Linked DNA regions of Homo sapiens. The protein of the gene in region 1 purifies or fractionates together with the protein of each later gene. This does not show direct contact. Each region holds a gene or a part of one and is shown in the gene's direction. Other genes may lie near its edges. The genes, in order: TRIM17, SLC25A31, MTMR1, SMC4, CDAN1, MYDGF and SPIN1.

What was found.
Region 2: the proteins of TRIM17 (region 1) and SLC25A31 purify together in Homo sapiens (affinity purification with mass spectrometry, with the first as the bait; one large-scale study listed by BioGRID). This does not show direct contact.
Region 3: the proteins of TRIM17 (region 1) and MTMR1 purify together in Homo sapiens (affinity purification with mass spectrometry; one large-scale study listed by BioGRID and IntAct). This does not show direct contact.
Region 4: the proteins of TRIM17 (region 1) and SMC4 purify together in Homo sapiens (affinity purification with mass spectrometry, with the first as the bait; one large-scale study listed by BioGRID). This does not show direct contact.
Region 5: the proteins of TRIM17 (region 1) and CDAN1 purify together in Homo sapiens (affinity purification with mass spectrometry, with the first as the bait; one large-scale study listed by BioGRID). This does not show direct contact.
Region 6: the proteins of TRIM17 (region 1) and MYDGF purify together in Homo sapiens (affinity purification with mass spectrometry, with the first as the bait; one large-scale study listed by BioGRID). This does not show direct contact.
Region 7: the proteins of TRIM17 (region 1) and SPIN1 purify together in Homo sapiens (affinity purification with mass spectrometry, with the first as the bait; one large-scale study listed by BioGRID). This does not show direct contact.

Annotation. Positions count from the first base shown.
Region 1 is NC_000001.11:228,414,026-228,418,821, reverse strand, and holds the start of TRIM17 (E3 ubiquitin-protein ligase TRIM17), read left to right. Parts: upstream 1-1,960; 5' UTR 1,961-2,283; exon of another isoform or gene 2,284-3,708; 5' UTR 3,709-3,749; coding exon 3,750-4,178; intron 4,179-4,796. UniProt on the Homo sapiens protein: E3 ubiquitin ligase that plays important roles in the regulation of neuronal apoptosis, selective autophagy or cell proliferation.
Region 2 is NC_000004.12:127,761,058-127,765,055, forward strand, and holds part of SLC25A31 (ADP/ATP translocase 4), read left to right. Parts: intron 1-2,272; exon of another isoform or gene 2,273-2,481; intron 2,482-3,185; coding exon 3,186-3,303; intron 3,304-3,998. UniProt on the Homo sapiens protein: ADP:ATP antiporter that mediates import of ADP into the mitochondrial matrix for ATP synthesis, and export of ATP out to fuel the cell.
Region 3 is NC_000023.11:150,762,502-150,766,106, forward strand, and holds the end of MTMR1 (phosphatidylinositol-3-phosphate phosphatase MTMR1), read left to right. Parts: intron 1-63; coding exon 64-228; 3' UTR 229-2,607; downstream 2,608-3,605. UniProt on the Homo sapiens protein: Lipid phosphatase that specifically dephosphorylates the D-3 position of phosphatidylinositol 3-phosphate, generating phosphatidylinositol. Could also dephosphorylate phosphatidylinositol 3,5-bisphosphate to produce phosphatidylinositol 5-phosphate.
Region 4 is NC_000003.12:160,433,052-160,435,453, forward strand, and holds the end of SMC4 (structural maintenance of chromosomes protein 4), read left to right. Parts: coding exon 1-158; intron 159-605; coding exon 606-758; 3' UTR 759-1,902; downstream 1,903-2,402. UniProt on the Homo sapiens protein: Central component of the condensin complex, a complex required for conversion of interphase chromatin into mitotic-like condense chromosomes.
Region 5 is NC_000015.10:42,722,692-42,727,274, reverse strand, and holds the end of CDAN1 (codanin-1), read left to right. Parts: intron 1-857; coding exon 858-965; intron 966-1,114; coding exon 1,115-1,178; intron 1,179-1,604; coding exon 1,605-1,786; intron 1,787-2,023; coding exon 2,024-2,131; intron 2,132-2,658; coding exon 2,659-2,784; 3' UTR 2,785-3,731; downstream 3,732-4,583. UniProt on the Homo sapiens protein: May act as a negative regulator of ASF1 in chromatin assembly.
Region 6 is NC_000019.10:4,667,221-4,671,905, reverse strand, and holds the start of MYDGF (myeloid-derived growth factor precursor), read left to right. Parts: upstream 1-1,563; 5' UTR 1,564-1,571; coding exon 1,572-1,745; intron 1,746-3,260; coding exon 3,261-3,311; intron 3,312-4,685. UniProt on the Homo sapiens protein: Bone marrow-derived monocyte and paracrine-acting protein that promotes cardiac myocyte survival and adaptive angiogenesis for cardiac protection and/or repair after myocardial infarction (MI).
Region 7 is NC_000009.12:88,468,201-88,472,198, forward strand, and holds part of SPIN1 (spindlin-1), read left to right. Parts: intron 1-171; coding exon 172-405; intron 406-3,998. UniProt on the Homo sapiens protein: Chromatin reader that specifically recognizes and binds histone H3 both trimethylated at 'Lys-4' and 'Lys-9' (H3K4me3K9me3) and is involved in piRNA-mediated retrotransposon silencing during spermatogenesis.

The DNA of each region.
Region 1 (4,796 bases):
AATGTATATCTGATTGCCTCTTTTGGAAAGGCTAATCAGAAACTCAAAAGAATGCAAACATTTGTCTCTTATCTACCTATGACCTGGAAGCCCCCTCCCCACTTCCAGTTGTCCCGCCTTTCTGGATGGAACCAATGTTCATCTTACATATATTGATCGATGTCTCATGTCTCCCTAAAATGTATAAAACCAAGCTGTGCTCGGACCACCTTGGGCACATGGCTGTGTCATGGGCGTGTGTCCTTAACTTTGGCAAAATAAACTTCCTAATTGACTTAAACTAGCCTCAGATATTCTGGGTTCACAAGGGTAATTCACTTAATCGGCCAGTGTGCGCAGCCAGCCCGCACCTGACAGCACACAGACCCCTTTGTGTGTGCGAGTGATGAGAGACCACAGAAGAAACACTCTACCGAGTGAGCCCAGGGAAAGCCAGCCATCTATGCCTGTGGCCAGCTGTCTACACCCGCACACCCAGGAGATTGCAGAATGGTGCCTCTTAGCCTTCAAGGCCCTGTTTTCCTGCCTGTCTGCACCCCCTGTGTGGGCCAAGCCTTAGTTTCTTCATCTGTCCTCTCTCTCCAATCCCAGGACTCTGACTCAGGGCACGCAGGCCTCTGGCTCCTGTTCCTGAAAGCAGGAGATGAACCCTCCATGTGAAAGGTGCATCCCTCTACTGGAGGATGAAGCGTGATGACTAGGCGTGGGGACTCAAGGCCAGGAGAAATGGCCACCAGTCAGGACCTGGGCAGGGCTGGGGGCGGCATTTTGGCTGAAACCGTAAGAGACTTTTAAACCAGAGCAACTCCATCTTGTATAGAGGCTGGGTAAAATAATTCTGAGACCTGCTGGGCTGCATTCCCCAGAGGTTAGACATTCCAAGTCACAGGATGGGATAGGAGGTTGGCACAAGATACACGTCATAAAGACCTTGCTGATGAAACAGTATGTGGTGAAGAGGCCAGCAAAATCCCACCAAAACCTAGATGGCGACCAGAATAACCTCTGGTTATCATGACTGCTCATTATATGCTAATTTTAATACGTTAGCATGCTATGAGATACCCTCACCAGTGCCACAACAGTTTACAGATGCCAAGACAAGGTCACAGTTACCCTATATGGTCTAAGAAGGGGAGGAGCCCTCAGTTTCTGGAATTGCCCTTCCTTTTCTGGGAAACTCATGAATACCCCACCCCTTATTTAGCATATAATCAGTAAATAGCCATAAAAATGGGCAACCTGTAGCCCTGGGGGCTGGTCTGCCCATGGAGTAGCCACTCTTTATTCCTTTACTTTCTTAATAAACTTGCTTTCACTTTACTCTATGGATTTGCCCCGAATTCTTTCTTGCCCAAGATCCAAAACCCTCTCTTGGGGTCTGGATCAGGACCTGTTTCTGGTAACAAAACCACCTGGGGTGTCGGCAAGACCCACCCCGTCCCGCCTGGTTCTAGGGGACCTGACCTGCCAGGTGGTCCCTCCAAACTGGTCCGCCCACAGGATTGGGACGCCCCTCCCTGTACCCTCAGCCTGATGCTGACTGCCAACCATGTGGGCAGACCTGGCGGCTGACTGGCTGCTCCTGGGGACCCCCTTCATAGCTTCTCAACAGGCACTCGCTCCTGCTGCCTCGCCCCCACCCCAGCCCACACAAACTCCTCTCCATCCCCTACCCCGACCAACTTAGCCCCTCACCTAACCCTCCAGCCTGGGGCTCGCGTGCCCTCCCGCAGCCCCAACCCCAGGTTGAGAAGCCTCTTCCAATCCCACTCCCCCCACCCTGACGCTCGCCTGCCCGCCCCTAGCCCCACCAGCTGTCCCCATTCCACTCCCCACCCCCAAGTAACCCCCCAACTCCCCACCCTCCACACTCCCTTAACCTCCCCTAAAAGTCCCACCCCAGGCCAACAAGACTCCTCCCTTCGCTGGGCTGTGGACCACATCCTCCCCACCGCCCAGTCAGCACCCGCTGCGCCTGTCCCCGGCTCGTCCAGAGCCTTCCACCCCCTGCCGCCTTCCTTCCCCAAGCCACCCCCAACCTCTCCTAAGAGGCGCCGCCCCAGTCCCGGCCGCCGAACACTCCCTCGCCCAGCATTCCCCTCCCCCGCCGCCCCCCAGCCCCCGCTGACGCCACAAAGTCCCTAGGCCTCCCGACCCCAGGTCCCCACGCCCCGGGCCGGGCCGCAGCCTCCTGGGCTTCGTGGGGGCAGACCCAGCCTTTCCCGGCAGCGAGCGCTCGGCCAGGTGCACTAGGCGCTGTGCGGGCCCCCCTTCCCCGCGGTGAGTAGCCCCCACCCCGCCGCCTAGGCTACCCTCCTGTGGCGCCTGGGCCACGACCTAAGCCTAACCCGGTCCTCCTCGCCCTCCAACGCCCGGCCTTCCCGCCTCCGCCGGCCGCCGCGTCCCTGGAGGGGCTAGCGCGCTTCAACAAGGTAACTCTACCGGGACCCTAGCGGACCAGAGCGGGAAGGACAGCCATCCCGGCAGCCAGAGCCAGAGCCCCAGGCCCGCTGCCGCTGTCCCTGCCCGGCTTCGGTCAGGGTGGGCTGGGTGCCTCCGTTAGGGCTCTTGGGGGGAGTCGGAGGGCTGGCGCCGGGTGGTTGGCGTGCAGAAAGCTCCGAGAAACTGGACGTGGGACAGAGCCGGGGAAGTCTGAGACCCCTAGACGCCCTCGCTTTAGGGGATGGCAGAACGGAAGGGGAGAATCGTGCTTGCAGTGTAGACGCGATTTTCAACTCCTTCTGCAACTCGGTCCCCATAGCAACCCCGTGGCGTAGGCGAAAGTCTGTAGATCTCCACTGCGTGGGGTCGCGAGTGTTGAGATTGCAGGGGGCATCTATGTGCATGCTTGTGTGCCTGTGCGTGTGTGCGCGCGTGTACCTGTGTGTACATGCATGTATGTTTACCGATATGTGCATCTGTGCCTGTGTGTGCTGTGTTTGTGGATCAGTGTTTCTGTGCGTACATGTTTGTATTTGTGTGGTGTGTATGCGTGGGTATGCGTGTGTGCACATGCACGTTTGTATACATACATGGGTATGTGTATGGGTGTTCGTCTGTGCGTACATGCACACGCGTGTTTTTTCTGAACCCCACCTCACTACCGAATGGAAGAGAGCTTTTTTCCTCTGATAGCCCATCCCTTCTTCCTTTGGTGTACGGGGTTTTGTTAAAGAAAAAATTCTGACATTTGAAAGGCTCTTTAGTCAGGCTACTTGCAATGGGAGAGTTGCGCCAGCAAAGACAGCTGGGGATGTATGGGGGAGTTGGAGTGGGGATCTGGGTGGGGTCAGTGGATGGAAAGTGATTAAGGGAAGGCTCCAAGGGTAGGGGCTTCTCCCTAAGCTGACCTAGCAGGCTTCTCCAGAAAGGCAGGTTGAAGGCCTAGCCGGCAACGGTCTGTCGGGGAGGAGGAGCTGATGAGATGTGGAGCTGGGGGTAGCCAGCAGCAGGCGGAAGTGGACGGGTAGGGTCCAGGCCCAGTGGAGAGGAGAGGCGGAGGGGCCTGCAGAGCATTGGTCAGGGAGGGTCTGTGTAGTTTCTGGGGAGGCATCTGTGTCTGTTGTTGACAAGGCTAAAAATGATGACTCTGGACTCTCTAACTGGACTGCAGTCCTAGCCCTCCTCTGTAAAGGGAGGCTGTACAGGACGGTTGCACACTGCCGGCGCCCAGATCATCGGGCTGCTCCCTCCAACTCTCTCCAGAGTCCCTCAAGCGGGAACCTGCCTCGTGTCTCCCAGGAGCCATGGAGGCTGTGGAACTCGCCAGAAAACTGCAGGAGGAAGCTACGTGCTCCATCTGTCTGGATTACTTCACAGACCCTGTGATGACCACCTGTGGCCACAACTTCTGCCGAGCCTGCATCCAGCTGAGCTGGGAAAAGGCGAGGGGCAAGAAGGGGAGGCGGAAGCGGAAGGGCTCCTTCCCCTGCCCCGAGTGCAGAGAGATGTCCCCGCAGAGGAACCTGCTGCCCAACCGGCTGCTGACCAAGGTGGCCGAGATGGCGCAGCAGCATCCTGGTCTGCAGAAGCAAGACCTGTGCCAGGAGCACCACGAGCCCCTCAAGCTTTTCTGCCAGAAGGACCAGAGCCCCATCTGTGTGGTGTGCAGGGAGTCCCGGGAGCACCGGCTGCACAGGGTGCTGCCCGCCGAGGAGGCAGTGCAGGGGTACAAGGTAGGCCACATCGGGGCCCAGGTCAAGGGGCCGGGGAGGAGGCATCCAGGGGGACAAGGTGACCCAGATCATGGGGGAGGGAGGAGGTGTCCAGGGACAAAGTGGCCCGAGTCAGGGGCTGGGGAGGAGGCATCCAGGGGACAAGGTGGCCTGTGGCTGGGTAGGGGTGTCCCTGGGGACAATGTGGGCCTACACTGTATGATGCAGGCATTGCAAAATCTTACCTCTCCTCTCAGAGTATTTTGGGTGGCTCTGAGAACCAAACTGATTTGAGACAGATAAGCAGAAGCAAAGCACTGAAATTCATTCCCTGTAAGCTTTCCATGACCCAGGAGTCGCTCCCAAGGAGCCAGAGGCCCATGGAAGCATGTTAGAGCCAAACATGTACCTGAGGAGGATGAGGGTTAGTTTAGCAGGGTCCCTTTGCACAGATTTCTCTGGTTTCGGCTTTCCCGCCCTTGGTAAGAACATGGCTTTCCTCCTGGCCTAGGGCAGTCCTCTCTGGCATGGTGGCTGTGCCTTCTGCTCTTAGGAAGGCCGAGGGTCACAGCAATTCTTACACCTGCCCTTTTTTAAGTGCCTTCAGCTCAAAATAATCCAAGGTGGCACATTCTGGGT
Region 2 (3,998 bases), on another chromosome or scaffold:
TGGAGGGACAGGCTTTGTTACATAAATGCAGGATCGTCACTCAGCATGGGCAGATTCTTACTGCCTTTCTCCCTCTATTTCTGTCCTTCCTACCGTCACTACATAGATCGGCCATACCGTTTATATATGTTGTGCCTGCCCCTGTCGTTTTTTCATAGCTCCCACTTTCTGTATCAGAAGTGTCCTGGTTTGAATGATAAATTACATGATTATCCACGCCAAAAATCATTGATCTGCCTTCTTTCTCATCAAGAAAGAAAAAAAGATTAAGTAGAACTTAAGATCTACTTTATAAATCTTTATGCCACATATTTTGTTTGGTTGATGTGCTTGGTTTTCATAAGCAGAGATTAACTCAGATTACCTCAGGAAAAAGATGATTTATTGTAATGATACAGTGGCACTTGAATTTCAGCCACAGGCACCTCTACGGACCAAACTATACTCTCATCTTTCTCTCCCAAGTCACCTGTTCTTTCTCTCTAATTACCTGCTTTTAGTGTGTGTGTTTGCTCTGTTTTCTCATTATTGCCTACTTTTTTTACTTACTGATATTTTCTTATTCCTTTAAATTCAATATTTGTACCATAGTAATCCTTTTTGGCCTTTCTAAAGGTCAGAGGTTCTTAACCTGGGATCCGTGAATGCTTCCAGAATACCCCACACTCTAAAAATATATGTTCATACATGTGTAATTTTTCTTAGGAGAGGATCTATAGCTTTAAACAGTCTCCAAAAAGTCTAAGACATTAACTTTTCCTTTTCTGTCCTTATTGATAACTAGTATTGAATATTTAAAGTTCAGTTCCCAAGAAAGAGGCTCTGGCCCAGCTCATCTTTTTCTACCAGGTTACCAATCATCTACTACACTGTGGATTAACTACCCTTATGTCAGATGCAATCTCCTGATCTAATTATTTCTGTATGATGAGACATGCTGCTTATACAATAAAACTGATGAGTGTTACTTAAAAAGATCCATGGGAGTCTGGGAACAGTAAGTGGCATTACCAGTACACTTTATTAAACAAATACTTATTTAATACATATCTCTGGGCAAGACCTCCTGACTTGCTCTGTGAAATAAACAGAGGAATTAAGAATCTTGGCCTCAAACAAATGGAAACAACCCAAATGTTCATCAGCTGATGAGTAGATAATGTTCATAAAATAGAATATTATTTGGCAATAAAAAGGAATGAAGTATTAATATGTACTGCAACATGGATGAACCTTGAAAACATGCTAAATGAAGGAAACCAGTCAAAAAAGAGTGTGTCTTATGTGATTCCATTTATATGAAATGTCCAGGATAAGCAAATATATAGAGACAGAAAGTAGTTTAATGGTTGCCTAGGACTTAAGGAGGTAGGGAGGATGTGGAGTGACTTATAACAGGCCTGGGGTTTCTTTTTGGTGTGATGAAAATATTCTAAGCTGTGGTGATGGTTGCACAACTCTGTGAATATATTAACAATTGAATTGTACGCTTTACATAGGTGAATTTTATGATATGTGAATTATACTTAGTAAAGCTGTTAAGGAAAAATAATGCTGGCCTCAAGAAATTTATAGTCTGGGCCGGGCGCAGTGGCTCACACCTGTAATCCCAGCACTTTGGGAGGCCTAGGCAGGCGGATCACGAGGTCAGGAGATGGAAACCATCCTGGCTAACACAGTGAAACCCCATCTCTACTAAAAAAAAAATACAAGAAAATTATCTGGGCGTGGTGGCGGGCGCCTGTAGTCCCAGCTACTCAGGAGGCTGAGGCAGGAGAATGGCGTGAACCCAGGAGGCAGAGCTTGCAGTGAGCCAAGATCTCGCCACTGCACTCCAGCCTGGGCGACAGAGCGAGACTCTGTCTCAAAAAAAAAAAAAAGAAATTTATAGTCTGTAGGAGTATAAATGTACACAAATAATTATAAATTGAAAGTAGAAAATGGTTGTAAGTGATATTTAAAAAATAAGAGTCTGTGCAGTGAGTCGAGATCGCGCCACTGCACTCCAGCTTGGGTGACAGAGCTAGACTCCATCTCAGAAAAAAAAAGAGTCTATAACATGTTAATACATTTTATGTATTGGTCATGGGATTCAACTTTAATTCTCTGACAGAGATGAAGTATTTATGGGAAGAGGGTATGATCATATACAGTTTCAATAGATGGGTTGGAGATCAGATATTTCATGAAAGAAGTAGAACTTGAATTAGAGCATGAAGCAATAACTATTTTTTTGTTTAAAAAAGGAAGAGCATTCCAGGGCTAGAGAACATTGAGAATTGCAAAGCTGTCTGACACTTTATTGTTAGAAATAAAAACCAGAAAATAAAGCAAGAAATTGAGCTTGACTAGCATATTATTCACTTTAATGTATTAAGTGCTTGCAGTGGCCTCGTATCCTGGATTTTTCATAACAGCTCCAATTCAGATACTCCTTTCTTCTCGCATAAGCACTAGATGTTGAAAAGCATCTTGCTGAACCTGGGGAGGGCACATTTTAAATGTTGATCAAAAGTAATTATACTTCTTCAATAGCTCATGTGAACTAGTAGACCAGTGAGGCCTAACTTAAATGCCATACAACTACATTATGATTGATGTCTGCCAATCTCCATGTTGTCATTTGAACATAATTAAATACGTATTTTTGAGCTATTCAAATTTAATTCTATTTAAATTACAAAGTGAAGCTGGGGCATTGTGAAGTATTTTAGGTTGGTGCAAAAAGTAATTGCAGTTTTTTGCCATAATACTACTTACTTCACCCTTCACAGAAAAAGGGCACAACTAAAGCCTCCATATGTGCCTGACATTGTAATCATAGCAAGCACTATTATTAAGAATTATGTAGCTATTAAGGAAAAAAAAAAGTATACAGCGTAAAGAGATGATTATGCGACCTCTTTTGCTAATTTGGGCTGCTTTGCTGGAGAACATTAAAATATCCTGGAATTTCAGTATGTCAGCATCTAAACTGTGTCTTCCAGACTGCATGAAACAAAAGCTATATGGCTATAAAAATAAAATATTTTGGATAGCATGGTATGCATTATTATAGATGTTTACTTTATAAAAGTGGCTTATAAATCTGGTGTTTTAACATTTATAAAAATAAGAATTTACCAGGTATTTTAAACAGTTAGATTCTGTGGTTTAATAACCACTTTTAAATTAATATGTTTCAGTTCTGGAGGTGGTTTTTGGCAAACCTGGCTTCTGGTGGAGCTGCTGGGGCAACATCCTTATGTGTAGTATATCCTCTAGATTTTGCCCGAACCCGATTAGGTGTCGATATTGGAAAAGGTATGAGATTTTTAGAAATACTAACTTTTCCTTCTTTGCATTTTGAACCATCTGTTATTTATTGGCATTAATTGTGCTATAATAGTGTTACCAGATAAAGTCTACGAACTTTGTTCTCAACCAAATGGTGGAGTCATAGGGCCTAAAGTATATTACTTGCTTCTTTTCCCTTAAAAAAGGGAAGGAGGGAAAGCCTGTTGTAACAAAAAAAGTGAACATAAAAATTGCTTATAACTTAGTCCCATTTTTTTTTCCTAGAAAGCCCTTCCTAGATTTTTTTCCATGCACTTAGTCCTGTCTCAGCTGTGGCTCCCTTCTAGGTTAGATGCACAAATCTCATCCTAGGGAGTCCCTTTGCCTCTATCCTTACTTAAATATCACATCTTCCCTTTTTTGTTATTACACCCTTGTTTTTTGGTAGAGTATATTCTTTGGTAACTTTTTGAGAAAGAGTGAAAAAAAATAAATTGAGCTCTTACATATCTTAAAAAAAGTGTTTGTCTTACCCTCTCAAAAAGGGTAAGACATATATGAAAGTCTGAGTTTAAAATTATTTTCCTTCACAATTACGAAAATATTACCCTGACTTCTAGTTTCTAATGTTGCTCTTAAGATACCAATTTGCTTACTCCGGATCCTTTAGTATATGTTTTTTCTTTTTAGTTTCTTTCTATCCCTGATGATCTTATATTTCA
Region 3 (3,605 bases), on another chromosome or scaffold:
CATGTGGAAACGCTGTGGTAGGAGGATGGCCTGATAATGCAGCTTTGTCTCTGCTCCCTCCAGATGCCCATTCACCAGAATCTCAAGGAGCTGCTGGCCGTCAGGGCGGAGCTGCAGAAGCGTGTGGAGGGCCTACAGCGGGAGGTGGCCACGCGCGCCGTCTCATCCTCATCTGAGCGGGGCTCCTCGCCCTCCCACTCCGCCACCTCCGTCCACACCTCGGTCTGATGGGCGAGGTCAGCCTGCTGCTCCACTGTCTCCCGGTGGCTCAGGAAAGGGACCTGGCGATCACTGTTATGGCTGTAGCTTGTGATCTTGTCTTTTAGGATTAGGCCCAGGGACCATTTGTGTGGCTAGGTGACAGCTCCCACTGTTGGCAACCGTTACCCTCCTGTCAGCGGTTTCACAGGGGAGCCGTCTGTCACGCCCACCCTGTGAAGCAACTTCTGGCATTCAGGCAGCTTGGGAGAAACTAAGTGAACGGAATGCAGTACTGAGGTTCAAGAAAGCTGTACGCCATTTCTTTCCAACTTAAATCCTTCAGTAACAACAAACACCACTCACTTCAAGATGCATTGCCAGCCCCGTGGCTTCCCTCAGCTCTTGGCCACAACTTGAAAACTGTCTTGAATGAAGTACTTGGGGAGAAGACAGGCCACTGCCCTCTGTTCCACAGTTTTCTTCATGCACGGGGTCCTCCTGTTAACAATTACTGTTGTGTACATATAAGGTATTTTTAGAGAAGAGAAACAGGCCTTTATTTTCCTATGTCCTTTTTTACGTTTAGAATAGTCACCCGAGGGGGGATCAGCTCAACTGTACTGTGGGAGAAATTCTTTTCCAACAAACCTCATGCTCGTTTTTCTGTGGTGCAATTTCAAGGGCAACGTGTTCTGTCCTCACCTCACTCTGGTACTCGCCTCTTGGGGCGGCTCAGCCCATTCATGGGGATGGCACCAAGCGGCCATGCTCAGTCTTCCAGCCCCGCTGAGGGTAAACCGAGGCCTCTGGCAGCTGTGCACAGGTGCTGGCCTCTGGCTCCTTCAAGGAGCACTGCCTGTCACTCGCTCCTGGGCTGTCTAGCCATGTCTCCCACCCCCACTTTACCGCAGCCAGCTGCTGGGATCAAAGCAAGTCTGTTCTTATGTTATTTGCCTGTATGAAATCATTTCTCATTTTATCACAATTCCTTCAACTCAGCTTACTCGCGTGGCTGCCTGTTCATATTTGAAAGCAGCCACCGTGCTGTGGCTTTGGTTTGGAAAAGCATAGCACGCACTTCCCTTGGTTTTCCCTTCCCAGAGCCGACCGCAGCTGGTCAGCCCTCTCTTCCCGCTCCTGAACCTTTACTTACTGACTTTGAGCTCTGTGACTCCGTCGGTTCTCGCAGGAATTAACTAACTTACCAATTGGTTCAATCCACTTGAGCGCCATAGCTCTGAGCTCCTCTGTGTGACATGCCACAGATGACTATTGCACACCTGGGTCCTGCCCCAGCAGGCCATGCCCCTCCCATGTGCCGTGCCTGTTGCTGCAGCTGCCCCCCCACCCCGCCACTGGCTGCAGGAATTCAGCCTTTAGAGGCAGAGGCAGCTGCAGCGGCCCCTGAGGTCAAACCCCAGTGTGACTGCATAGCAGTGTTAGCTGGTTGGTTTCAAACTACTGGATTCCAGGCAAAGGCCTACAGATTGACCTTATTATTTTTGAAAATATGTTAAGGGTTTTTTCGTAGAGAGAGAAAGAATGGATTTTTTTTTAACTGGGAACCTCCTGATTCTTACGGAAAATTATCCTTCTATAAGAAGATACCAGAGAGATTTATTCAAGGTAATTTGATAACCTAAAATCAATTCTCCATTTTTTATCATATGTGGGATTTGTTGCTAAGTCGTGTTCAACAATAGCTTTTATGTTCCTAACATATCTGAAAGCTTATTTATGAATGGATATACTGGATTATTGATATACTGATTTTTTTTTTAATGGGGACATTTGCCATTTTCTTCCCAGAAATATGTAATCCCCTGGCTGACTAGGACTGTTAAACATAGTGTGGACTGGATGATGCCTTCGACAAACCAGAGAAGCCAAGTTGGGGGGAGCTGGTGCCTGGAGTGGGCCCTGTGCACCTCACCTGGCGGAGGCTGGGGGGGGCTCTGTCAGCAGGACCCTAGAGGAGACTCTCATTCGATTTTAAAGAAGCACAACGGGTCATTTTCCTTTGTATGTTCCTAGCGCAGAACTGTTTCTAAAACAACTTGAAGTATAGTTTTGTTATCTAAGCAATTTTTGTTTTAAGTAAGTAAGTGTACTAGAATGCGAAGCCGTTATGGTTCAGGTTTTTAAAAACTGGTACAGTATTGTATTTGTCTCATCTGTTGCACTGTATTTCAATCATCTGTAATTAAAATGATCATATGTTTGCTCCCTGGTCTTTTTTAAGTAAGTAAGTAAGTATCTTAGTAGATTTTTCCTTTGAGGAAAATCGGTAATAAAATAACATGGATTGAATGTTTACTGTGCGTCAAGCACAGTTAATATATGATGATGTAAAGTAACTAACTTTATGTGATTTAATTCATTCAGTAAATTGTAAATGTATCATGAGTCTTAAGTAAGTAAGTAAGTAAGTAAGTAAGTATTTTGGCTGAAACAGGAAATACTGATTGATTGATTGATTGATTGATTGATGATTGTAAAGTCAGAAACGCCCTCAGCTCTAACCTTGAGAAAACGTGGACGACTTGGGGAAAGGTCTGGAGACACCTGAGAGGAGCCAGTCAGGGTGATGAGTCCTTCGCATGCAAGTGCAGTGCTCTCTAAGGCCTCAGACTGCCCCCACCCCAAAGGAAGGGGCGTTCACCTTTTCAGGGCCACGAAGGCCTGGATGAAATCACACCACCCCCTGTGCCCTCTGTGTGTTGTCGGTCTTCTTGTTAAGGGTGTGGGGTCCCTGTCCCTCTCCACACACGTTACTACTGAGTGAGCCAGAGAGCCCGGTATTCACTGGGCACAGAGGATGCCCAGGGGACTGCTTGCCAGCCAGCCTTCCCCAGCAGTGAGACCATAGCAGCTAGCCATGCAGAACTCCTGCACGAGACAGGCATATGGTGGTCTCGGGTTTGAGAGGACCTGATGCTATTATTTCACTAGAAGCCGAGGTTGGCAAAACAAAATGAAAAAACAAACAACCGACCTCCATGTTAAAACCCAGGGTCCACTGCATCTTGTTTGTTTTCATGCTGAAATGCCCTGAACTGAACTGTCGTCTTCTCAATTTGAAGCCAACATGCGAGCTGATGAGAAGGACATACTTCATCCCAAACGGGCCACTCTCCATGAGGCTGCAACAAGTGACGAGGTGCAGGGCTCCTTTCTCACCCAGCTTTCTGGTTGAAAAACAACTGCGCGTTAACTGGAACCTCCACTGGTTACCAGCCTGCTTGGAAGGCGGCAGAGCAGTCGACTTGGGATTTGTGAGCCTGGGACTTTTTGCTGCTTCCAGGCCCCGGACTGCGCAACCCATGTAGCCCGGGAGCGGCCCCGCAGCACTCTGCTCCTGCCTCTGCCCTCTCTAACCCCAGGACATTGGTCGCTCCACATCC
Region 4 (2,402 bases), on another chromosome or scaffold:
AAAAGATCTTCAACCTTTCGGGAGGAGAGAAAACACTTAGTTCATTGGCTTTAGTATTTGCTCTTCACCACTACAAGCCCACTCCCCTTTACTTCATGGATGAGATTGATGCAGCCCTTGATTTTAAAAATGTGTCCATTGTTGCATTTTATATATATGTAAGTAATCATTTTGGGATTTTCATTCCAGAAACTTTTAGGGGTATCCTAAACATTACACATGGAATTCTTTATTTCTTACAATTGAGCTTTTTCTTTATTGTCTAATAACTCCATCTCCATCTCCTCTGGTATCAGTGGAGACCAAATTATTTTTTATTTGAACCAAATATTTCCATTTTGGAGGAGTAAAATATAAATTAAAAATGCAAATTAGTAGCAGAATCACAGCTAGAATCCTAGGTCATCTTCCTAGATCTTTTCCACTAGAAGTCAAAATAACCAAATTCCTTTCACACTCAAATACTGTTTTATGAATTATTCCTGCCATCATTCCTTTACATGTTATCAATGTAATGTTTATTGTCCAAAAAATATTTGAGGTTACATGTTTGTGTGATTTACCTGTTATTACTTAATGTTTGACTTTTCTTTGTTTCTCTTTAGGAACAAACAAAAAATGCACAGTTCATAATAATTTCTCTTCGAAATAATATGTTTGAGATTTCGGATAGACTTATTGGAATTTACAAGACATACAACATAACAAAAAGTGTTGCTGTAAATCCAAAAGAAATTGCATCTAAGGGACTTTGTTGAACTTTATGCTGAAGATTCTTCAAGTTGATTCAGTGTATTACTGATTTTTTTCTATTTGTAAAGGATTATGAGTTGTATAAAATACATACTCCCTAAACTAGATCATGAAACTGGTTTCTGTTTTATGCAGTTGTCATTTGTAAAGTCTAATAAAATATTCTCTATAATTGCTTCTAGATTACAAAAATATGACAATCTTGTAAGTAGCAGACTATGGAGAAAAATGAGTTACCTGGAGGGTCAGGTAACTTGCCAAACTAAAAAGTATGTTAGTTGAGGCAAAGTCCTAAGCAAGGTTGTGCTATCAAGGCTCAGCATACCTTCGTGGGCCTTTGATTTACCAACACTGGAAATGCCTGCCAACTAATCTTGGATAGATTCTTTAAGGCATTCCACTTAGCTTGCCAGTTGAGACAATCACCACAGTTATTACCCAAATACTATGAACATATTTTTGTAAACCAGTCATTCTGAATTATAGTGATGAGAATTTAAATATATGCTTTTCTAGAATTTGATGTTTGACCATTTATGACTTAATTACCAGAGAGCCAGTAAATTAGGACAGTGTTTCAACAAGCCTAGGCTATCTCGTAAGTTGAAAAATATCCCACTATAGTTGCTTCATGAGTATGAAGTAAGATGGCCTCTGATTTACACTGGTTCAATTTACAAATTTTCAACTTTATGATAGGTTTATCCGGGTACTAAATGCATTTCAACTTGATAGTTTCAACTTATGATAGGTTTACCAGGATGTAGTCCCACTGTTGAGGAGCATCTATTTAGGGGTTAATTACTTTAGTAATAAGTGGAAAGTAAGATACCTTGAGTAATGTTTGCCTATAAAATTGTCAGCGTATTTTTACACTATTGGCTCAAGAATGTTATAATGCTAAGGGACATAAGTTGGCAACCACTTGGTTTTTGGAAGGACTTTCGGTATTGTATTAGAAGTCTGCCCTAGCTGTTAAATTTCTGGGTATTTATCCTAAGGAATTAATTAAAGAGTTAATTGTTCCTTTCTTCAGTGGGCCATTGTTTTAGATATTTAAAAAATCCAACAGTTTCTATCATAATGTAACTGTAAAAATGTAAACACATTATTAGCATGGACTTTTAAATAAAGATTTAAAGAAAGCAAGATCGGAAATTCAAGTACGGTAATTTGTTCTAAATCAAGAATATATAAGGGAAAAGTAAGTTTAAAGTGCTATAATGATAATCAAGTGTTTTCATTTGGTGCGAAAATAGAATTTAATACTTTTATTATATTTTAATAACCAATGCAGTAGAGCTCAGATTTTTTTTTTTTTTTTGAAAGTCTCACTGCATCACCCAGGGTGGAGTGCTGTGGCAAGATCTTGGCTCACTGCAACCCTGCCTCACGGGTTCAAGCGATTCAAGTGCCTCAGCCACATGAGTAGCTGGGACTACAGGTGCACACCACAGTGCCCAGCTAATTTTTGTGTTTTTGGTAGACAGGGTTTTGCCATGTTGGCCAAGCTGGTCTCAAACTCCTGGCCTCAAGTGATCTGCCTGCCTCAGCCTCCCAAAGTGCTGGACTATAGGCATGAGCCACTGCACCCAGCCTGCAGTACTAAGTTTCAAAGAATTAGAAGTACCCAGAACCCATGTGAAAAT
Region 5 (4,583 bases), on another chromosome or scaffold:
ATTTCAGAAATGTTCTATGTGGGAGGTGATGCTTGTTTAGTTACAGGCAGTAAGAATAAACCATCAGTTCTCCTAACTTTATTTTAAAACTCAAAGACTCTCTAGAGCAGGAGTCAAGAAACAGCCCATGGACTGAAGCGAGCCAGCCCCTTGTTTTGTGAGTGAAGTTTTAGTGGAATGCAGCCATATTAATTTGTGTACGAGCTGCCTATGGCTGCTTTTGTGCAACTACTGAACAGCAGAGTTGCATAGTTGGGACACAGACTTTATGGCCTGCAAAGCCTAAAATATTTACTGTCTGGTTCTGGTCTAGGGTAATGATCTAGGAATAGAGATTGGAATAGGGACTATAAGGTACAATGACTAAAAAATGGAGATTATGTAGGAGGGAGAGGAAGAGGCTTAGTGGCCATTTGATACTGGTTGTCAATATGCAGAGGATTTCTGTATTGAAAGCTCAGCTCTCCAGAGAAGATGAACAGAGAGGCTTGAGAGACAGACGATACTAAGACGGTATCTGATAGGCCGGTTTCCTTACATGCTTCAAGAATAAGATGCCCTATGGGAGTTGGTTAGCTACAGTTTGGTCCCAAGTTGAGTGACGTTTCCCATGCTATGGCAGCCTACTGTCCCTCAGCTGACCTCCATCTGTTCCCTCTTTTGTTGTCCACATGGTTGCTTCCCCTGGCTGTATTATCCTGCCCAAGTCCCAGGTCTAGGGGCAACTTGGCTTTACTCACCATATCCCGGGGCCCATTCTTCTGCCTCTCTCCACTGGCTGATCCCTGTCCCAAGCCAAATTCTCTGTGGCATCCTGGCCCCCAGCGCAAGGTGATATCTCCCCCTGCTCTTCACAGGACGTGCTCTCCTTGGCCGTGGGGCCACGGGACCCTGACGAGGGAGTCTCCCCAGAGCATCTGGAACAGCTCCTAGGCCAGCTGGGCCAGACGCTGCGGTGCCGCCAGGTGAGCTGTGGCATCTGCCACCGGGGGGCTTTTTTCTGTGTCCTTGTGTGAGACCTGATAACCAGAGCCACACTGGCTCAGGGCCAGTTCTCGCAGCAGTAAGCATGGTGATACCTATGGTCTCTCTTTCCCCCCCACCCCAACCGCAGTTCCTGTGCCCACCTGCTGAGCAGCATCTGGCAAAGTGCTCTGTGGAGTTAGCTTCCCTCCTCGGTATGGTTGCTTTCCATCAAATCCCTCTCTTGCCTGATCCCCCAAATCTCAGGGTTGGGTACAAGCAAGATTAGAAACAGAGCCCTCTTCTGTCCCTTTTTTTTTTTTTTTTTTTTTTTTTGAGACGGAATCTTGTTCTGTTGCCCAGGCTGGAGTGCAGTGGCACGATCTTAGCTAACTGCAACCTCTGCCTCCCGGGTTCAAGCAATTCTGCCTCGGCCAAGTAGCTGGGACTACAGGTGCCTTCCACCACGCCTGGCTAATTTTGGTATTTTTAATAGAGATGGGGTTTCACTATGTTGGCCAGACTGGTCTCGAACCCCTGATCTGCCCACCTCAGCCTCCCGAAGTGTTGGGATTATAGGTGTGAGTCACCGCACCCGGCCTGCCCCCATCTTTTAAAGCTTGGCTTTCCTCTTTCCACAGTTGCAGATCAAATTCCTATCCTAGGGCCCCCGGCACAGTACAGGCTGGAGAGAGGGCAGGCTCGAAGGCTTCTGCACATGCTGCTTTCCTTGTGGAAGGAAGACTTTCAGGGGCCGGTTCCGCTGCAGCTGCTGCTGAGCCCAAGAAATGTGGGGCTTCTGGCAGACACAAGGCCAAGGGAGGTGAGTCAGACGGAACAAGAAGCCCTCTGCAGTCACACTCTGAACATCCACCACCCTTGCCCCAAACTATGAGCTGCTCTGCATCCTTTATTTCCCCTTCCTGTTCCACACAGAAATGGGCTCCATTTATCCATCTCAAGTCTCTTCCCAGCAGCTCTGCCCTTTGAGATCTCAATCTCTGTCATCAGGGTCACTCTGTCGTCCTCCTAGCAACCCTGACCTCGGTGTGTTTTGCAGTGGGACTTGCTGCTATTCTTGCTACGGGAGCTGGTGGAGAAGGGTCTGATGGGACGGATGGAGATAGAGGCCTGCCTGGGCAGCCTCCACCAGGCCCAGTGGCCAGGGGTAAGGAGTCTCCTGTCTTTTAGGTGGAGAGAGAACAGGTGTTACATATCCCATCTGTCCTGAAAGGAAGCAAGTGATGGGGCCAAACTAAGTGGATTTTTGTCAAGAGTCTTCAGGGCCACCCTGAAATTGTCCCGATTTGAGTAGTTATTATATGAGGGACTGTGTTAGTGGGAAGACGGACGAAAGGCAGGCAGTTAGTTGGAAAGCAGCACAGCCCATTATATGGGTTTTTAAAATTAGAATAACCTGGATTTTAACGGGAATAATAATTTCAAGATGAAGTAGATGCACTCAGTAGTACTCAAAAACTGGTCAAGCCTGTGCCTCCATCAGAGTTCGCTCCCTGCCATAACTTCAGCCTCCCAGAGTACTAACAAACAGACAAGGTTTCATGTCCATTTCAGTGTGGAGGGCAGTTGAGAAAAAATAATATAGCCAGCCAGGTTGTGGTCTTTAGTGACAAAGGATGAGCCATTGAGAATTATTACATGCTGCCTTTTCCCTCATCTTTCTATGTATTCCAGGACTTTGCTGAAGAATTAGCAACACTGTCTAATCTGTTTCTAGCCGAGCCCCACCTGCCAGAACCCCAGCTAAGAGCCTGTGAGTTGGTGCAGCCAAACCGGGGCACTGTGCTGGCCCAGAGCTAGGGCTGAGAAGTGGCCCTGCCTTGGGCATTGCACCAGAACCCTGGACCCCCGCCTCACGAGGAGGCCCAAGTGCCCAATGCAGACCCTCACTGGTTGGGGTGTAGCTGGGTCTACAGTCAGACTTCCTGCTCTAAGGGTGTCACTGCCTGGCATCCCACCACGCGAATCCTAGAGGAAGGAGAGTTGGCCTGATTTGGGATTATGGCAGAAAAGTCCAGAGATGCCAGTCCTGGAGTAGAAGAGGTGGTGTTTGTTTATCTCTTGGATACTAAATGAAATGAGGTGTGTGGGCTTGTCAACACAGAATTCAAGCCTCATTTGCTATCCCAGCATCTCTTAAAACTTTGTAGTCTTGGAATTCATGACAGAGGCAAATGACTCCTGCTTAACTTATGAAGAAAGTTAAAACATGAATCTTGGGAGTCTACATTTTCTTATCACCAGGAGCTGGACTGCCATCTCCTTATAAATGCCTAACACAGGCCGGGTCTGGTGGCTCATGCCTGTAATCCCAGCACTTTGAGAGGCCTGAGGTCGGCGGACTGCCTGAGGTCAGGAATTCAAGACCAGCCTGGCCAACATGGCAAAACCCCATCTCTACTAAAAATAAAAAAATTATTAGCTGGGCATGGTGGTGTGTGCCTGTAATCCCAGCTACTCAGGAGGATGAGGCAGGAGACCTGCTTGAACCTGGAGGTGGAGGTTGCAGTGAGCCGAGGTCGCACCACTGCACTCCAGTCTGGGTAACAGAGCGAGACTTTCTAGAAAAAGCCTAACAAACAGATAAGGTAGGACTCAACCAACTGAAACCTGACTTTCCCCCTGTACCTTCAGCCCCTGTGCAGGTAGTAACCTCTTGAGACCTCTCCCTGACCAGGGACCAAGCACAGGGCATTTAGAGCTTTTTAGAATAAACTGGTTTTCTTTAACAAGGGCTTGATGTCTAATCATTGTCACCTGTCTTCTCCCTTTAGAAGGCTGCAGTCTCGGGTGGGCTGTAGGTGGAGCGCTGTAATTGTGGCTTTGCTCTGTGCATTACAAGGTGAGCTACCTTGGCTCTTAGAAATGCCTGTATATTCCACTCTAGAGGGCTAGTCTCTGGTGGCAATATCTATTAATTTAATTTATCGCCAGTGGTACTGACTTCTCCTGTGTAACTCGCTTTATTTGTGGGAGAAAGGGTTAGGATAATGTAGTTTCCACACACAAGATATTCCCTACTGAACCACATGGTGGGGCAGTGTTCTTGTTAAGCTTGTTAAGGCTAAGGTGTTTGTTTGATTGATTTGGCTTGGAGTTTCTCAGAGCAAAAGCATTGCTTCTCGATTACAGCTGTATCAAGCTCTATAAATGAGCCACTGATTTTGACAGGTTCACACCTGTAATCCCAGTGCTTTGGGAAGCCGAGAGAGAGGACTACTTGAGTCCAGGAGTTAGAGGTTACAGTGAACTATGATTGTGCCACTGCACTCCAGCCTGAGCAAGAGTGAGACCCCCATCTCTTTGAGGGGAAAAAAAAAAAGCACTACTGTGATCATGTGCATTAATAACCAGGAGTTGGACTGATAATATAATCCTCAGGAGGACCTAAAGGGGTCCACTTGTGTGACCATGGTAGAGCCAGGAAATCCCATCAACCTAGAAAGTAAAAAATGGGAGTTTTCCTCAGTCACCACCTTGTGATCATACTTCTCCCAAACACCATGCCTTTCCCTTCTCCTCAGCTCAGCTACTCCTTTAACAAGTTTCTATATCTGAACCATTTTCCCCTGATCTCTTCATTTTCAAAGGCCTTTATC
Region 6 (4,685 bases), on another chromosome or scaffold:
TATGTGAATATATGAATATATATATAGGAATGGGGTCTCACTATGTTGCCCAGAATGGTCTAGAACTCCTGAGGTCAAGCAATCCACCCACCTTGGCCTCCCGAAGGGTTGGAATTACAGGCATGAAGTATCACGCCCGGCCAATAAATTTCCTAACGCAAGCAGGTATCCCAATTTAGAACAGGCTGCCACTGCAGAAAGGCAACTGGCTTGGACTTCTGTCATTGGCAGAGGAGTCAGCCTCCACGGGGATCCTTCTCACCTCCCTGGGGCTCACCACCCTCCGTAGCTATGGAGTAGAGTGATTTAATTCCTCAAAGGGTGAATTATAACCCATCTTAGGAGTCATCTATGACGTTTTCTCTCTGGATTCTGTTTTTTGCCAGTTGGGAAGGACTAGAAACACCAGCTTAATTATTGACCCCCCAGGCCTGGCCACTGGTGTTTTCTTGAAATGTTAAGCCATTTGTAACCAAAGAATGACTTCCTTCTCTAGTTGAAAACCTGGGATCTAATGATAGCAATAGCTACAATATATAATTCTCAGTTCATTCGTCCCGGTGTGGGAACTTAATTCCCTCACTTACTCCTCCCAACAACTCCTTGAGGTAGGGATTATTTTCTTTTTAACTTTTTATTTTGAAATAATTTTTGCCTCCCAGAAAATCTGCAGAAACTGTAGGGTTTCCTAATACGCTTCATCCAACTCCCCCTAATGTGAACATCGTCTGTAACCCCTAGGACAAGCCAGGTTATCAAAGCCAGGAAGTGAACACCCACATAATCCTATTAACAAATACACAGACTGATCGAGCGTGATGACTCACACCTGTAATCCCAGCACTTTGGAAGGCCGAGGCAGGCGGATCACTTGGGGTCAGGAGCTCAAGACCAGCCTGGCCAACATGGTGAAAACCTGTCTCTACTAAAAATACAAAAATTAGCCAGGGGTGGTGGTGAACACCTGTAGTCCCAGCTACTCGGGAGGCTGAGGCAGGTGCATCACTTGAACCTGGGAGGCGGAGAGTGCAGTGAGCCGAGATCGCGCCACTGCCCTCCAGCCTGGGCAACAAGAGGGAAACAAAAGCAAGCATCCTGCTTCTCATCCTACTTTCCCTCTGCTAATTTTGAATATCGATGCACACACATCTTGGCTGCAACGATTATGAGAAGTTCGCCTAATGGTGACCTTCGATTTCCCTCACTCCCTGTACATCTCCTAACTGAAAGAGCTGCAGTCAGTCACACGGCTGGTGAGGGACCCTGAGACCCCAAAACGAACTCCATTACCACCTGAGGGACCCTCCAAGGATCGCCGGGCTACGCAGGGTCCCTAGGGTACGAGGCCGCCCCCTCGGCGGCCCCGCCCCCTCGGCGGCCCCGCCCCCTCGGCAAAAGTCCCGCCCCCTCGACAAAGTCCCGCCCCCAAGATGGTGGCCCCGGGCGGTGGACAGGGCGGGGCGTGCCGGGTCACGTGGACAGCCGACGCCGACGTGGCCTCCGGCGGACGCTCCACGTGTCCCTCGCCGCGCCCCGTCTACCCGCCCCTGCCCTGAGGACCCTAGTCCAACATGGCGGCGCCCAGCGGAGGGTGGAACGGCGTCGGCGCGAGCTTGTGGGCCGCGCTGCTCCTAGGGGCCGTGGCGCTGAGGCCGGCGGAGGCGGTGTCCGAGCCCACGACGGTGGCGTTTGACGTGCGGCCCGGCGGCGTCGTGCATTCCTTCTCCCATAACGTGGGCCCGGGGGTACGTGCCACCGCCGTCCCGGATATTTGAGTGCTGGCAGGCCCGGGGAGGGGGCGCGGAGCATTGGGGGCGGGGCCCGAGGAGGGGGCGCGGACCGCGGAGGTGGGTACTGAAGAAGGGGTGCGGATTGTTAGGGTCGGAGGCTGAGTGGGGGGCGCGGGACCGTGAGGCCGGGGTCATCACTGGGGCAGGACTGAACTCATAGGGAGCGGGGCCTTGTGGGCCCCGGCGGCGTTGAGGGGGCGTGATCACCTGTCACCTGTCGCCTGCCTGGAGTGTCCAGGCACCCCTGCCCTCCAGACGCAGAGGTGGGGAGGGGTCAGTGATGGGAGCGGCAGGAGGCTAAAGGGCATCTGCCCTCCTGGGCCTGAAGGAAATCAGTCGCTGCAGCTCCGAAGAGGGAGGAAGTGCTCCTTCCTTCCATTGCACAAGGTCCCCCCTCACCGAGGGTGTGAGGCCGGGCCCTCAGCCCTGTACTCAGCTTGTCGGCAAAGTCCTTTCCCCTCTCAGCCTCCCTTTCCCCGCCTGTAATAACAGTATCTTTACTGTTTTTTGACTATTTCTTTTTAGACTTGCGTGCAGTGGCGGGATCTCGGCTCACTGCATCCTTAGCCTTCTGGGTTCAAGCAATTCTTCTGCCTCAGCCTCCCCAGTACCTGGGATTACAGACGTGTGCCACCACACCCGGATAATTGTTGTTGTTGTTGTTTGAGATGGAGCCTCACTCTGTCGCCCAGGCTGGAGTGCAGTGGCGCGATCTTGGCTCACTGCAACCTCTGCCTCCCAGGTTCATGCCATTCTCCTGCCGCAGCCTCCCAAGTAGCTGGGACTACTAATCTTTGTATTTTTAGTACAGATGGGATTTCACCATGTTAGCCAGGCTGGTCTTGAACTCCTGACCGCAGGTGACCCGCCCACCTCGGCCTCCCAAAGTGATGGGATTACAGGCGTGAGCCACTGTGCCAGGCCAGTTTGTTGACTACTTCCTTATAGTTAGGTGTGATGCCAAGTCCTTTATATGTTAGGCCCAAGTTACAGATGAGAAAATGCTTCACATAAAAAAGAGAAACAGAGAGAAACTAGAGGCTCAGAAAAGTTTTCACTTGTCCAGGTCCCATGGCAAAACCCATCTCTACAAAAATACGAAAAATTAGCCAGGTGTGGTAGCAGGTGCCTGTAATCCCAAGTACTCAGGAGGCTGAGGCAGGAGAATCGTTTGAACCCGGGAGGCAGAAGTTGCAGTGAGCTGAGATCATCCCACTTCAGCCTGGGCGACAGAACAAGACTCTGCTTCAAAAAAAAAAAAAAAAATTAGTCGGGTGTGGTGGTTGCGTACCTATTGTCTCAGTTACTTGAGAGGCTGAGGCAAGAGGATTACTCAAACCTGGGAGTTCGAGGCTGCAGTGAGCTGTCATTGTGCCCCTGCACTCCAGCTTGGGTGACAGCAAGACCCCGTCTCTTAAACAAAATAAAAATTTCCTTCTACCAAACCTTTTTTTTCCTTCCATTCTCTAGGACAAATATACGTGTATGTTCACTTACGCCTCTCAAGGAGGGACCAATGAGGTGAGTTGTTCAAAATTCCCTCTAGCTTACTGTGACAGTATCCATTGTTGTAGGGAGATGTTCTGTAGCAGACAGCAGGGTTGGGTCTCACCTATATCACCTTACACTCATTGAATGACTCTTCCTAAACCAATAAAAAGGGAGAGTATTGGCATTAAACAGTGACGACAGATTCTGCTGTTATTATTCTACAGAGCAAGCAAATGTCTGGACAGAAGGAGGGAGGGGAGATGGGAGTCTGCCATCCCCATGAGCATCTGTTGGGATGTTGTATTTTATGTGCAGTGCAACAAGTTATCACAGCTTAGGGGCTTAAAACAGCACCCATTTATTATCTCATAGCTTTGTAGGTCAGAAGTCTGGGTCAGCTCAGTTGTGTGCTTCATAAAACCAAACTCAAGGTATTTTGGGAGGCTGAGGCGGGCAGATCACCTGAGGTCAAAGTTCGAGACCAGCCTGGCCAACATGGCAAAACCTCATCTCTACTAAAAATACAAAAATTAGCTGGGCATGGTGGCACATGCCTGTAGTCCCAGCTACTCAGGAGGCTGAGGCAGGAGAATCACTTGAACCCAGGAGACGGAGGTTGCAGTGAGCCAAGATTGTGCCACTGCACTCCAGCCTGGGCAACAGAGCGAGACTCTGTCTCAAAAAATAAATAATAAATAAATAAAGGTATCACAGGCAAGGCATGGTGGCTCATGCCCCATCTCTACAGAAAATAAAAAAATTAGCCCAGCGTGGTGGCGTGCACCTGTGGTTCCAGCTACTTGGGAGACTGAGGTGGGAGGATCGCTTGAGCCCAGGAGGTCAAGGCTGTAGTGAGCCGTGATTGTGCTACTGGGCAACAGAGCAAGACCCTGTCTCAAAAAAAAAAAAAGTCTCTGGGCTGGGAGAAGAATCCTCTCCTTCAAGCTCTTAGTTGGCAGAATTCAGTTACTTGTGGTTCAGGGACCAAGGTCCCGGTTTCCTTGCTGGCTGTTGTCTCCAGCTGGTGGCAGAAGAGCCAGTAAAGATGATTTGGGCCAGGCACAGTGGCTCATGCCTATAATCCCAGCACTTTGGGAGGCCAAGGCTGGCGAATCACCTGAAGTCAGGAGCTCCAGACCAGCCTGGCCAACATGGTGAAACCCCGTCTCTACTAAAACTACAAAAATTAGCCGGGCGAGCCAGGCGCACTGGCTCATGCCTGTAATCCCAGCACTTTGGGAGGCCGAGGCGGGTGGATCACAAGGTCAGGAGATCGAGACCATCCTGGCTAACACGGTGAAACCCCGTCTCTACTAAAAATACAAAAAATTAGCCGGGTGTTTTGGTGGGCACCTGTAGTCCCAGCTACTGGGGAGGCTGAGGCAGGAGAATGGCGTGAACCCG
Region 7 (3,998 bases), on another chromosome or scaffold:
GTAGTTTGTCTTTGGTTTTTGTACTTTTTAAAGCTTTCCCAGATTCTGATGCTTGCTAATACGTTGCATGGACAAAATTTCAGGTGTAGCCTTCTTTAGTAAATTCAGTCTTCATAGTCGGTAATCAGCGAAACACTTTGTCAACTTTTTTTTTTTTTTTTTAATCCCCAGCGACATCTCGAATCAGCGATGCACACTTGGCAGACACAATGATTGGCAAAGCAGTGGAACATATGTTTGAGACAGAGGATGGTTCTAAAGATGAGTGGAGGGGAATGGTCTTAGCACGTGCACCTGTCATGAACACATGGTTTTACATTACCTATGAGAAAGACCCTGTCTTGTACATGTACCAACTCTTAGATGATTACAAAGAAGGCGACCTTCGCATTATGCCTGATTCCAGTAAGTATATATTGGCAACTTTTATATGTGATAATTAGAAGGGATTTGGACTTCAGTACAAGATATTTGATTGGCTCTTTTGCAGATACATTTTTATTTTTGGATATATGATTCTTTTAGTCATGCACAAACACAGCCTTTGAAATTTTTCATCCAGTTGTTATAAATGTTAGATAAGAAAATATTTGATAGTCAGTTCTGCTTGGCTTCTGTAATAAGATACAAGTTGTTTTATAATTATTAACACTACTACATATTACTTCTTGCTTTTATTTAAAAACATGATGGAATAGGGATCAGTAAAATACGTCCCCGTGTACCCTGCTCAGCTTTAACAGTTATCTCATCGCCTGTCTAGTTTTATCTGTTAGTCCCCCCAGTGCAATTATTTTGAATCTAATCCCAAGACATTGATTATTTCATCTGTAAATACTTGAACTTCAGAGCAGCGATCTTCAGCCTTTTTGTCACCGGGGACCAGTTTCATGGAAGACAGTTTTCTGTGGATTGGGGGTTGGGTGTGGATATGGTGGTTTTGGAGGCATTAGATTCCCATAAGGAACACACAACTTAGATTCTTCACATGCGTAGTTCACAATAAGGTTTGTGCTCCTGTGAGAATCTGATGCCTCTGCTGATCTGACAGGAGGCAGAGCTCAGACGGCAGTGCTCTCTTTGCCGCTGCTCACCTCCTGCTGTGCGGCGTGGCCCCAGGTGTCTGGGACTCCTGATTTAGAGAACATCAATTTCAGAAAACGATTGACTGCTAACTTTTCAGTAGCAAGTGGAGTACAGAGTCAGTGTTTAGACAGGTGATTTAGCTATTTCCACAACTAGTCTGTTCACACAGGTAAGGTAGAAGAGGATGTGACCTGGGCTAATTTCATTAGGCCTAGAAAACCTTTATTGTGGTTTTTGTTTTTGGACAGAGTCTTGCTCTGTTGCTCAGGCTGGGCTGGAGTGTAATGGTGTGGTCTTGGCTCACTGCAACCTCCGCCTCCCACGCTCAAGCGAGTCTTCTGCCCCAGCCTCCCAAGTGGCTGGGACTGCAGGCACCCACCGCCACACCTGGTTAATTTTTGTTTGTTTGTTTGTTTTGTTTTATATTTTAGAGATGGGGTTTCACCATGTTGGCCAAGGTGGTCTCAAACACTTGAGCTCAGGTAGTCCACCAGCCTTGGCCTCCCACAAGTGTTAGGATTACAGGTGTGAGCCATTACGACCATGTTAGTCCATATAGTTAGTCCATTTAAAATGTGCATTTCTGTACTTTTTAATATACGCACAGATATGTACAGTCCTCACCACAGTCGATTTTAGAACATTGTCATCACCTCAAAAGAAAACTTTGTATCTGTTAGCTGTCAGTCCTTTATTCTTCGAACCCCCTGGCCTTAAGCAACCAGTAATACTTGCTGTGTAAATTTCCCTGTTGTGGACATTCATATGAATGGACTATATGGTGTGAGGTCCTTTGTGCTAGCTTCTTTCCCTTAGCATATTTTGAGATTTCATTCACGCTGTAGCATATATCAGTACTTCATTCCTTTTAATGGCCAAATACGATTCCATTGTATGGATATACTACATTTTGATTAGCCATTCATCCAGTAAAGCACATCTGAGTTGTTTCCCCACCTCTTGGTTATTATGAATAATGCTGCTGTAAACATTTTTGTACAAGTTTCTGTGTGGACATGTTTTATTTCCTTTGGGTATATACCTAGGAGTGGAGTTGCTGGGTCATAATGGTAACTCTATGTTTAATCGTTTGGGGGAACTGCCAGGCTAATTTTAAAAACGGAAATACCACTTTACATTTCCAACAGCAGTGTATGAGACTTCTGATTTCTCCACATTCTCACCAACTGTTACTGTTACTTTGATTCTGGCCATCCTAGTGGATGTGAAGTGGTATCTCATTGTGGCTTTGATTTGCATTTCCCTGATGAGTAATGATGTTAAGCATCTTTCATATGCTTATTGGCCCCCCCCCTTTTTTTTTTTGAGACAGAGTCTTGCTCTGTCGCCCAGGCTGGAGTGCATTGGCGTGATCTCAGCTTACTGCAGCCTCCGCCTACTGGGTTCAAGCCATTCTCCTGCCTCAGCCTCCCCAGTAGCTGGGACTATAGGCGCGTGCCACCATGTCTTCTAATTTTTGTATTTTTAGTGGAGATGGGGTTTCACCATATTGGCCGGGCTCCTCTTGAACTCCTGACCTCAAAGGATCCACCTGCCTTGGCCTCCCAAAGGGCCGGGATTACAGACATGAGCCACCATGCCCGGCCTATTGGCCCTTTTAATATCATCTGTGGTGAAATGTCTATTCATATCCCCTGCCTATTTTTAAATTGAATTATCTGTCTTTCATTATTGCATTGTGACAATTTTTTAAATACAAGACCTTTATCAGATATATGTTGCAAATGTTTTCTCCTATTCCATGGGCTGTTTTTACTTTCTTGATGATGATCTTTGCACAAAAGTTTTAAACTCTGAAGTCCGAGTTATGTTTTCTCTTGCTGAGTATGCTTTTTGTGTCCTAAGAATCTTTTGCCAAATCTGAGGTCATAAAGATTTACCCTCGTTTTCTTATAAGAGTTTTATAATTATAGCTCTTACTTAGAGATCTTTGATGCATTTTCAAGTTAATTTTTGTTTGTGGTTCAAGTTAAGGGTCCAACTTCATTTTTTTTTGCTTGTGACTGCCTATCTAGTTGTCCAAGCACCATATTTTGAAAAGACTATTCTTTCCCCCATTGAATGGTTTTGGCATCCTTGTTGCGCGGTGGCTCACACCTGTAATCCCAGTACTTTGGGAGGCCAAGGCGGGTGGATCACGAGGTCAGGAGTTCGAGACCAGCCTGGGCAGCACGGGGAAACCCTGTCTCTACTAAAAATTAGCCAGGTGTGGTGGCAGGCACCTGTAATCCCAGCTACTCGGGAGGCTGAGGCAGGAGAATCGCTTGAACCTGGGAAGTGGATGTTGCAGTGAGCCAAGACCGCACCATTGCACTCCAGCCTGGGCAACAGAGCGAGACTCTGTCTCAAAAAAAAAAAAAAAAAAAAAAAAAGAAAATCAGTTGACCACAGATACGTGGGTGTGTTTCTGGACTCTCAATTCTGTTGCATTAGTTTGTATGTCTGTTGCTGTGCCAGTGCTGCATTGTCTTGATTACATTGCTTTGTGGTAAATTTTGAGATCAAGAAGTTTGAGTCCTGCTTTTTTTTTTCCTCCTTTTTTTGAGACAGTCGCACTCTGTTGCTCAGGCTGGAGTATAGTGGCACGATCTCGGCTCATTGCAACCTCCGCCTCCCAAGGAACTGGGATTACAGGCATACGCCACCACATTGGGCTAACTTTCGTATTTTTAGTAGAGATGGGGTTTTGCCATATTGGCCAGGCTGGTCTCAAACTCCTGGGGTGAAGTGATCTGCCCACCTCAGTCTTCCAAAGTGCTGGGATTACAGGTGTAAGCCACTGCACCCCGGCCCCTCCTTTCTTTTTCAGGAGTGTTTTGACTATTCTGGGTCCCTTGCAATTTCATATAAATTTTAGAATCAACTTGTCAGAACAAAGAAGTCACCTGGGA